Regions from separate parts of the Homo sapiens genome. Here region 2 is reported to be linked to region 1. Evidence: microRNA targets listed by miRTarBase, many of them from high-throughput screens and not tested one by one. Region 1 holds a microRNA gene; the other region holds the end of a gene's coding sequence.
The links. Region 1 holds the annotated microRNA hsa-miR-518c-3p (CAAAGCGCUUCUCUUUAGAGUGU, at 1,186-1,208, shown strand). A microRNA usually pairs through its seed, bases 2 to 8, with sites in the 3' UTR of a target mRNA and lowers its output. Matches are read on the target gene's strand: a 7mer-m8 pairs with bases 2 to 8, a 7mer-A1 pairs with bases 2 to 7 and ends in A, and an 8mer does both.

Region 2: miRTarBase lists ACVR1B as a target of hsa-miR-518c-3p. Seed matches in the 3' UTR shown: 7mer-m8 at 2,736-2,742.

The regions. Positions count from the first base shown.
Region 1 is chr19:53,707,611-53,711,762 of GRCh38, forward strand. It overlaps MIR518C (microRNA 518c), which reads left to right and starts at 1,125; the gene lies at 1,125-1,225. It overlaps MIR524 (microRNA 524), which reads left to right and starts at 3,392; the gene lies at 3,392-3,478. LOC107985346 (a long non-coding RNA gene) reads left to right here. Exons shown (of 5, transcript XR_001753998.1): 5 at 659-699.
Region 2 is chr12:51,993,319-51,997,318 of GRCh38, reverse strand. It overlaps ACVR1B (activin A receptor type 1B), which reads right to left. Exons shown (of 9, transcript NM_004302.5): 9 at 241-3,334. The coding sequence ends at 3,209. Among named protein-coding and RNA genes, the nearest start is that of TAMALIN, 12 kb to the left of the region's middle.

The sequences.
Region 1 (4,152 bases):
ATGGTGGGCTTCTGTTTTTGTTTTGATTTTTTCTTTTTTTTTTTTTTGAGATGGAGTTTCGTTCTTGCTGCCCAAGCACTAGTATGTAGGAATTATTCTTTATGTGAGCATATAGTACATGGAACTTTGTTTTTTTGAGACAGGGTCTCCAAAATATATACATGTTATCATATAATCTTCTATGTATAATTATATTCACACAAAATAGTCTTCTGCACACAGAGAATACTCTTATATCACTTTGGGGTTGTTTTTGTTTGTGTATTTTTTTTTTTTTTAATTTTTTTTGAGACACCATCTGGCTCTATTGCCCAGGCTGGAGTGCAGTGTTGTGACCTCAACTCACTGCAGCCTCTACCTCCCACCTCAGCCTCCTGAATTAGTGTCTACAGGCATGAACCACTACACCTGGCTATCTTTTGTATTTTTACAGATGAGGTTTTACTATGTTGGGCAGGCTAGTTTTGAACTCGAGCTCATGTAATTTTCCCGCCTTCGACTCCTAAAGTGCTGGGATTAGAGGTGTAAGCCACTGCACTCCACCCGTACTTCTGTACAAATGTTATTGAGGAGCTTTTACGGCCTAGGCAGTGCTCTATCCTGGAGAATGTTTGTGTGTAAGACAATGCATATTCTTTTTTTCTTTCCTGTCACCCAGGCTGGAGTGCATTGGCACGATCTCGTCTCACTGCAACCTCCGCCTCCCGGGTTCAAGCAATTCTCCTGCCTCAGCCTCCTGAGTAGCTGGGATTACAGGTGGGCACCACCACGCCTGGCAAATTTAGATTCCATTTTGGATGCTCCCATCATGACTGTGTGTCCCTGTGCTGGAACTCAAGTGACCATGTGACTCAATCCATTGCTGTTCTCTAGAAATCCACCTCAATTCTCTTGGTTAAAGGTAAGGTATGTGTAGTGGGCATTGCTTTTTCTCCTTGGAGACAAAACTTAGGAGGATTCCCCTTGATGAACAAGGCTAATCTGCTGAGCCTGGAGATTGTCCTTTTAGAGGTTTATGTTCTGGATTCCAGAAAACGGTCAAACAGCGAATAAATGCATCTTTATATTTGTGTCCATCTTAACCTGGTCAAGGAAAATTTCAACAAAAATCCCAGATGGCTGGAGCGAGAAGATCTCATGCTGTGACTCTCTGGAGGGAAGCACTTTCTGTTGTCTGAAAGAAAACAAAGCGCTTCTCTTTAGAGTGTTACGGTTTGAGAAAAGCAACGTTGAAGTTGATGCTGATCTTGGTAATACATTCGCAGAGCATGCTTATCAGGCTTGGATGACGGCAGGGTTCTGTTTTGGTTTTATTTTTTTCCAAGACCAGTCTCTGTTGCCCAGGCTGGAGAGGGAGGGGTTGCACTCCAAACTAGATCTCTTGGGGTCATGTCTTGCTCTATTATTATTATTAATTCTTATTTTTGTGTGTGTGTGAGACGGAGTCTCGCTCTGTCACCAGGTTGGAGTCCAGTGGCGGAATCTCAGCTCACTGCAACCTCCGACTCCGTGGTTCAAGCGATTCTCCTGCCTCAGCCTCCTGAGTAGCTGGGATTACAGGCACGCACCGCCATGCCGAGCTAATTTTTGTATTTTTAGTAGAGACCGGGTTTCACCACGTTGGCCAGGATGGTCTCAAACTCCTGACCTCATGATCCACCCGCCTCGGCCTCCCAAAGTGCTGGGATTACAGGTGTGAGCCTCCGTGCCCAGCCTGTTATTTTATTTTGTTTTATTTTATTTATTTTATTTTATTTTGAGATGGAGACTGGCTCTGTCGCCCAGGCTGGAATGCAGTGGCAGGATCTCCACTCACTGTAACTCCCACCTCTGTCGCCCAGGCTGGAGTGCAGTGGCAGGATCTCCACTCACCGTGGAGTTCCAGTGATTCTTTCACCTTAGCCTCGCAAATAGCTGGTATTACAAGCACCCACCAACACACCCTGCCAATTTTTGTATTTTTAGACAAGAAAGGGTTTCGCCATGTTGGCCAGGCTGGTCTCGACTCCTGACCTTAAGTGATCCACCTCCCTGGCCTCCCAAAGTGCTGGGATTACAGGCGTGAGCCACCACGTCCAGCCTCAAGTGGTCTTCTTGTCAGCCTCGCAAGTAGTTGGGCTCAGGTTTTAATTTTTGGTAGAGATGGGGTCTCTTTTGCCTGGGATGGTCTCAGCTGAGCTTAAGTGATCCTAAATGTGTGAGCCACCTTGTCCCATTTCAAAGATAGGTGACACGGCCAGGCATCCTGGGACACACAGGGTCCCAGTTACTGCAAAGGCTAGGGTGGGAGGGTCCTTTGATTTTAAGGCTATACCATGCACTGATCACACCTTTGAATAGCCACTGCACTCCGGCCTGGGCCACATAGCAAGATCCCATCTCTTTAAAAACGCAGATTACATGCCATCTGGTTCCTGAGGCTCCATTTGGGTTGGTCACTTCAAATACAGGCCTTTCATCAGTTTAGTTTAATCAATCCAAACCATGTTTCCTTCATTAGGAGAGTAAGGGCCAGGTGTGTAATCCAAGCACTTTGGGAGACTGAAGCAGGCGGATCAGGAGGTCAGGAGTTCGAGACCAGCCTGACCAATATGGTGAAACCCCGTCTCTACTAAAAATACAAAGATTAAGTGGGCGTGGTGGTGCGTGCTTGTAATCCCAGCTACTCAGGAGGCTGAGGCAGCAGAATCTCTTCAACCCAGGAGGCGGAGGTTGCAGTGAGCCAAGATCGCGCAGGTGCACTCCAGCCTGGGCGACAGAGCGAGGCTCCATCTCAAAACAAAACAAAACAAAAAATATAGGCCTCCACATCTATCCAGTCTATTCTGTAATCCCAATGGATGTCAATATTAATACAATGTTCTTATTTTTTCTATTTATTTGTATCTTTTTAGTTGAATCTCCTTGTCCCTGACACTAAATTTTTTTTATTTTTATTTATTTATTTTTTTTGAAACAGTCTTGCTCTGTCGCCCAGGCTGCAGTACAGTGGCGCAATCTCGGCTTACTGTAGCCTCTGTCTCCCGGGTTCCAGTGATTCTCCTTCCCCAACTCCCGGGTAACTGGGATTTTCAGGCACACACCACCACCCCAGCTAATTTTTTTGTACGTTTAGTAGAGACAGGGTTTCACCATATTGGGCAGGCTGGCCTTGAACTCCTGAACTAAGGTGATCCGCCCACCTCGGCCTCCCAAAGTGCTGGGATTAGGGATAAGGCTAACCTGCTTATTCTTTGTAGCAAGGAACTGGAGATGGTCATTTTAGGGGTTTATGTTCTGGATTCCAGAAAACATGCAAACAGGGCCAATAAATGCATCCTCATTTTTGTGTCCATTTTAACCTGGGCAAGGAAAATTCCAACAAAAAACCCAGAGTTCTGGAGCAAGAAGATCTCATGCTGTGACCCTACAAAGGGAAGCACTTTCTCTTGTCCAAAGGAAAAGAAGGCGCTTCCCTTTGGAGTGTTACGGTTTGAGAAAAGCAGCGTTGAAGTTGATGCTTATCTCGGTAATACATTTGTAGAGCATGCTTATCATGAGGCTTGGACGATGGCGGGGTTCTGTTTTGGTTTTGCTTTTTTATTCTAAGACAGGATCTCTGTTGCCCAGGCTGGAGTGCGGTGGCACATCCAACCTAGGTCTTTTGGATTCAAATGGTTTTTTTAGCGGACAGAGTCTCTCTATCACCCAGGCTGAAGTGCAGTGGTGTGATCTCGGCTCACTGCAACCTCCACCTCCCAGGTTCAAGCGAGTCTCCTGCCTCAGCTTCCCAAGTAGGTGAGATTACAGGTGCCCATCACCACACCTGGATAATATTTTCATTTTTTAAAATTCATTTATTTATGTTTTTGAGATGGAGTCTCACTGTTACCCAGGCTGGAGGGCCGAGGCGTGATCTCTGCTCAGTGCAACCTCTGCCTCCCGGATTCAAGCAATTCTTCTACCTCAGCCTCCTGAGTAGCTAGAATTACGGGAGCCCACCACCACACCTGGCTACTTTTTGTTTTTTGTTTTTTGTTTTTTTTTTAGTAGAGATGGGATTTCACCATGTTTGCCAGGCTGGTCTCAAACCCCTGACCTCAAGTTAGCCACCGGCCTCTGCCTCCCAAAGTGCTGGGATTACAGGCATGAGCCACCACGCCTGGCCTAATT
Region 2 (4,000 bases), not on the chromosome of region 1:
CCCAAGAAAAGGATGCTTTGTGTCTTCTGTCCCTTGCATGCCAGACCCGCCCTCTAGGAACACAAAGCAACAGTCTCAGGAAGACCCAGGATGTTGGGAACAGCATTCCTCTTGCTGGGGTCTGCTACAGCTGGTGTGAGCACGAGACCCTGACCTTAGAACATCCACCCCATTCCCAACTCCCCTGACAAAAGCTGGGTGGCCGTACTACGTATGTGGGACAGATGGCACCAGAGCAGCTCTGTGAATAAAACTTTTAATAATGTACAGCAGAAATTGGACAGGCTCATTCTTATATTAAAACAAAAGATTTCCTATATTACAATTTATTTACATTTGCATACTGAAGAGGTAAAGTGTCTAAGTGGCTATTTTACAGTCCTTTCTAATAAAATGTACAAAAACAAACAGAAGTACCGAGAATGCCGTTCGGGGGCCTTTATGGCGACGTAAGAACGGGCTTGGACTTGGTCTGTGAATCCAGAATCCAGAGGTGCAGGTAGCACTATGGATCAGGGTTAGCCTCGGGGGGCCAAAAACACGGCTTCAGTTTCTCCCCAACTCTCACTTAGTGTTAAGAGTGGCAGAGGTGGGTGTGGGAGCTTCCCAAAGACCTGCTCCATCTTCCCCAGAGGTGGAAGAGTTGGACTGTGTGTGGGGTAAGGGCAGAAGGGCCAACTGGGGAGTGGGCTAGTGGCTTGGGAGTGGACGTGTGTTGGCAGATCCCAGAGGCTACTTGTGACTCTGGGAAGAGGAGTCTAAGTTCCATCATTACCTATAAACCGCCAAGGTTCTGCTGCAGGGCGGATAGGTGGGAGGTCAGCAGGGGTAAAGACGGTCCCCCCAATGACACAATGGTATTTAAACGAAATTAGTGGCCAGTAAATTGGCCCAAAGGTTAGGGGAAGATCTCCTTTAATGCAAGGAAAGAAGCAATAATCAGTCAAATAAATAGAAGGGCCAGGAGCACTGGGGAGCCTGAGGGCAGGGACAGGGCTCTCCCTCCTCCACAAGCTTTGGCAGAGAACTGCTGGGTTGGAGGCAGAGATGCTCTAAGGCTACATACACAATACACCTCCCCTGGGGACAGGAAGGGGGCTCAGAATGAATGCAGTGATTTGAGGTCTCACCTGGGGTTCTAAACCCCAGGTCTCATCACCCGCCCCTGGTCTCTTTGTGGAGGGGGTTGTGGGGGTTCCTCTTTCTTCAGTGATCTTATATAAGAACAATAATTCTAGGCTCAAAAGGGTCGTAGAACCAATTATGAAACCTTCTGGTCTCAAAACAGGCATCTACTTACTTGAATCAGCTCTTTTTACAGTGCTCCAGGAGTAGGACCCAAGCATGTCTTGTCCACAGATGTATTCCCAGCACCTGGCACCCAGCAGGCACTTCACCCACATTTGTTGAATAAATGCCTGGAGAGGGTACAACCAGCTGGACAGTGCAAGAAAGGGCCCTAGAGCAAAAACCACTCAAGGAATTGGGGGTGGGGACAAAATACGAGAGAGACTGAGCCTCAGGGCAAAGAGGAACTCTCACTGCTGAGTGGGAACAGGCTCAGGTGCAAGGACAAACATTTCCAGTGTGATTGAGCTATGTGCGTTCAATTGGATAATTTTTTTTTTTAGGGATTTCTTTAAAAACAAATAGATTGAGAGGTAATCACAGAGATGGTTTTCCTTTTACAAAAACTTAATATTTAACAACATTAAAAAAAGTTAAAATCCAAACCCTCCCAATAAAATTAAAAAAAGAAATCAAACCACTCCAGTTAAAAGTTATGGCTTCAAAGTTATTATATACCTAAGATATGCTGACCAAATCACCACCCACAGCCGTGCTTCTAGGCTTCGTTAAATACTATACTCAGGTTAAATAACATGTTCGGCTCAGGCTGTTCCCTTCAGTAGGGCTCCTGAAGTGGATGCAAACCTCTCACCTTCCCTCCACCCTGATCAGACAGTCCAGTAAAAGAAGACCCATGCAGATGCCTCCCTCCCACCCCAGACTCCCTCCCCACTCCTTGCCCGCCCTTCCCTTCCCCACCCCAAACCCACCACCACCAAAAATATACACTGCTGTTTCCAGGATCTGGGAGATGAAAGACAGATGTAACATTCCAATCTGAGTCCCGAGATCTGGCTTCACATTCCTCGGCCCTTCCTCGATGCTGCTGAGGATGATGCCCTTGGGCTGGCTCATTTCCCATGGCTGACACTAACACCCAAGACTTCCACCAGGATTCCTTCCCTGCCCATCCCACCCACCACCCTCACATTTTGGCCCAAAAGCCTCTTTTGTCATGGACAACTGGGCCAGCTTTGGTTCCACAGTCTGAGATGGAGGAGGAGAGCTGTGCTGATGCTGGGGTGGGCAGAGTAGCCTGCCAGACACAGAGTACCACTGTGGCATGAGGGGCTCTGGGGGAGGGAGAGACCTCCAGGGAAGGGCACCAGGGAAACTAGATGCTGCTCACTACTGAAAAGAGGCACCAGCAAGCACGGACAGCATGACGACCACACCCCCGACCTGCACATGCACAGAAAGCTCAAGCAGGTAAGTGCGCACCTACAGACACACACACACACTCACACGCACGTGTAAGGGCATGGCACGAACCAGGCACAACGGGGGACGCACCTCGGCACATGCACACACGGCTGGACAGACAAAGCGGCAGATTCCGTCTCCACTGGCAGTCTCCCGGCAGCGTCCATCCCAGGGAGGAGGGGAAAGCGCGGCTCAGAGCTGCCTGTGAGAGGGGCTGCACTTCTGGTTCTTCCGGGCCACCTTGGTGTGCTGTGGGCTGGTCCCCGAAGGAAACCCTCAGGGCAGCTTAGCACTGGCAACACCTCGGTTCCTCCGGCCCCTCCCAAGCGCCCCTGTCATGGCTCCTGGCCACGTGCCAGATGCACCGGGTTTCGCGGGACTTCCCACTACAACCAGTTCGAGGTGTGGCACTGAGTTCTCCACACAATTCGCTCTCAGAGTCTCCATGCCATTAGGAGGTAAATAGAAAAGGTGTCTGTCTCAAACCCAACATGGGAGTGAGCGAGTCTCTCCCGGGCTCTGTCCCTCTTGCGGGCCAGGGCTCCTGGCCACAGAGGGCTGGGCAGAAACGAGAGGTAGGCCTCCATCGTACGCTCAACGCGGCAGCTGTGCGTAGTTCTCGCTGCCAGGAGCTCCGTGTGGAGAGAGGGAGCAGTTAGATCTTCACGTCTTCCTGCACGCTGAGCTGGGAGAGGGTCTTCTTGATGCGCAGGGCCGTCAGGCGGGCTGCGCCGTTGGCATACCAACACTCTCGCATCATCTTCCCCATCACCCGCAGTGCCTGTGCAGAGACCCAGGAGCCATCAGCTCGGTCATGCCCTGGAGAAGCCTTTCTGGTCCCTAGGCTCTCACTCATTTCCCTGCCACCTCCCGCTCAGTGCAGTCTGGCAGATCCACATCCACCCGGCGGCCGACCTTAGGGAAATGCTCTGCAAGGCTCCCTTTGTTCCCTGGCTCTTCCTTTTTTTTTTTTTTTTTTTTTTTTTTTTTTTTTTTTTTTAGAAGGAGTCTCACTCTGTCACCCAGGCTGGAGTGCAGTGGCGCAATCTTGGCTCACCGCAACCTCCGCCTCCCGGGTTCAAGTGATTCTCCTGTCTCAGCCTCCCCAGTAGCTGGGACTACAGGCACACACCACTACGCCCAGCTGATTTTTGTATTTTTAGTAGAGATGGGGTTTTACCATATTGGTTGGCCAGGATGGTCTCGCTCTCTCGACCTTGTGATCTGCCCACCTCGGCCTCCCAAAGTGCTGGGATTACAGGCATGAGCCACCGCGCCAGGCGGCTCTTCCTTTTTAAGGGACAGCTTACACAAGTGAAAGGCAAACGCTGCAGCTAACGGCCAGCTCTTTTGGTCTCACCTGCCCTCTGAAGCAAACCCTGCCCTGAGGGTTCCAAGGAGTGCGGTGAGAAGTGCTGCTCTATGATGCAACACGAAAGCATCAGCT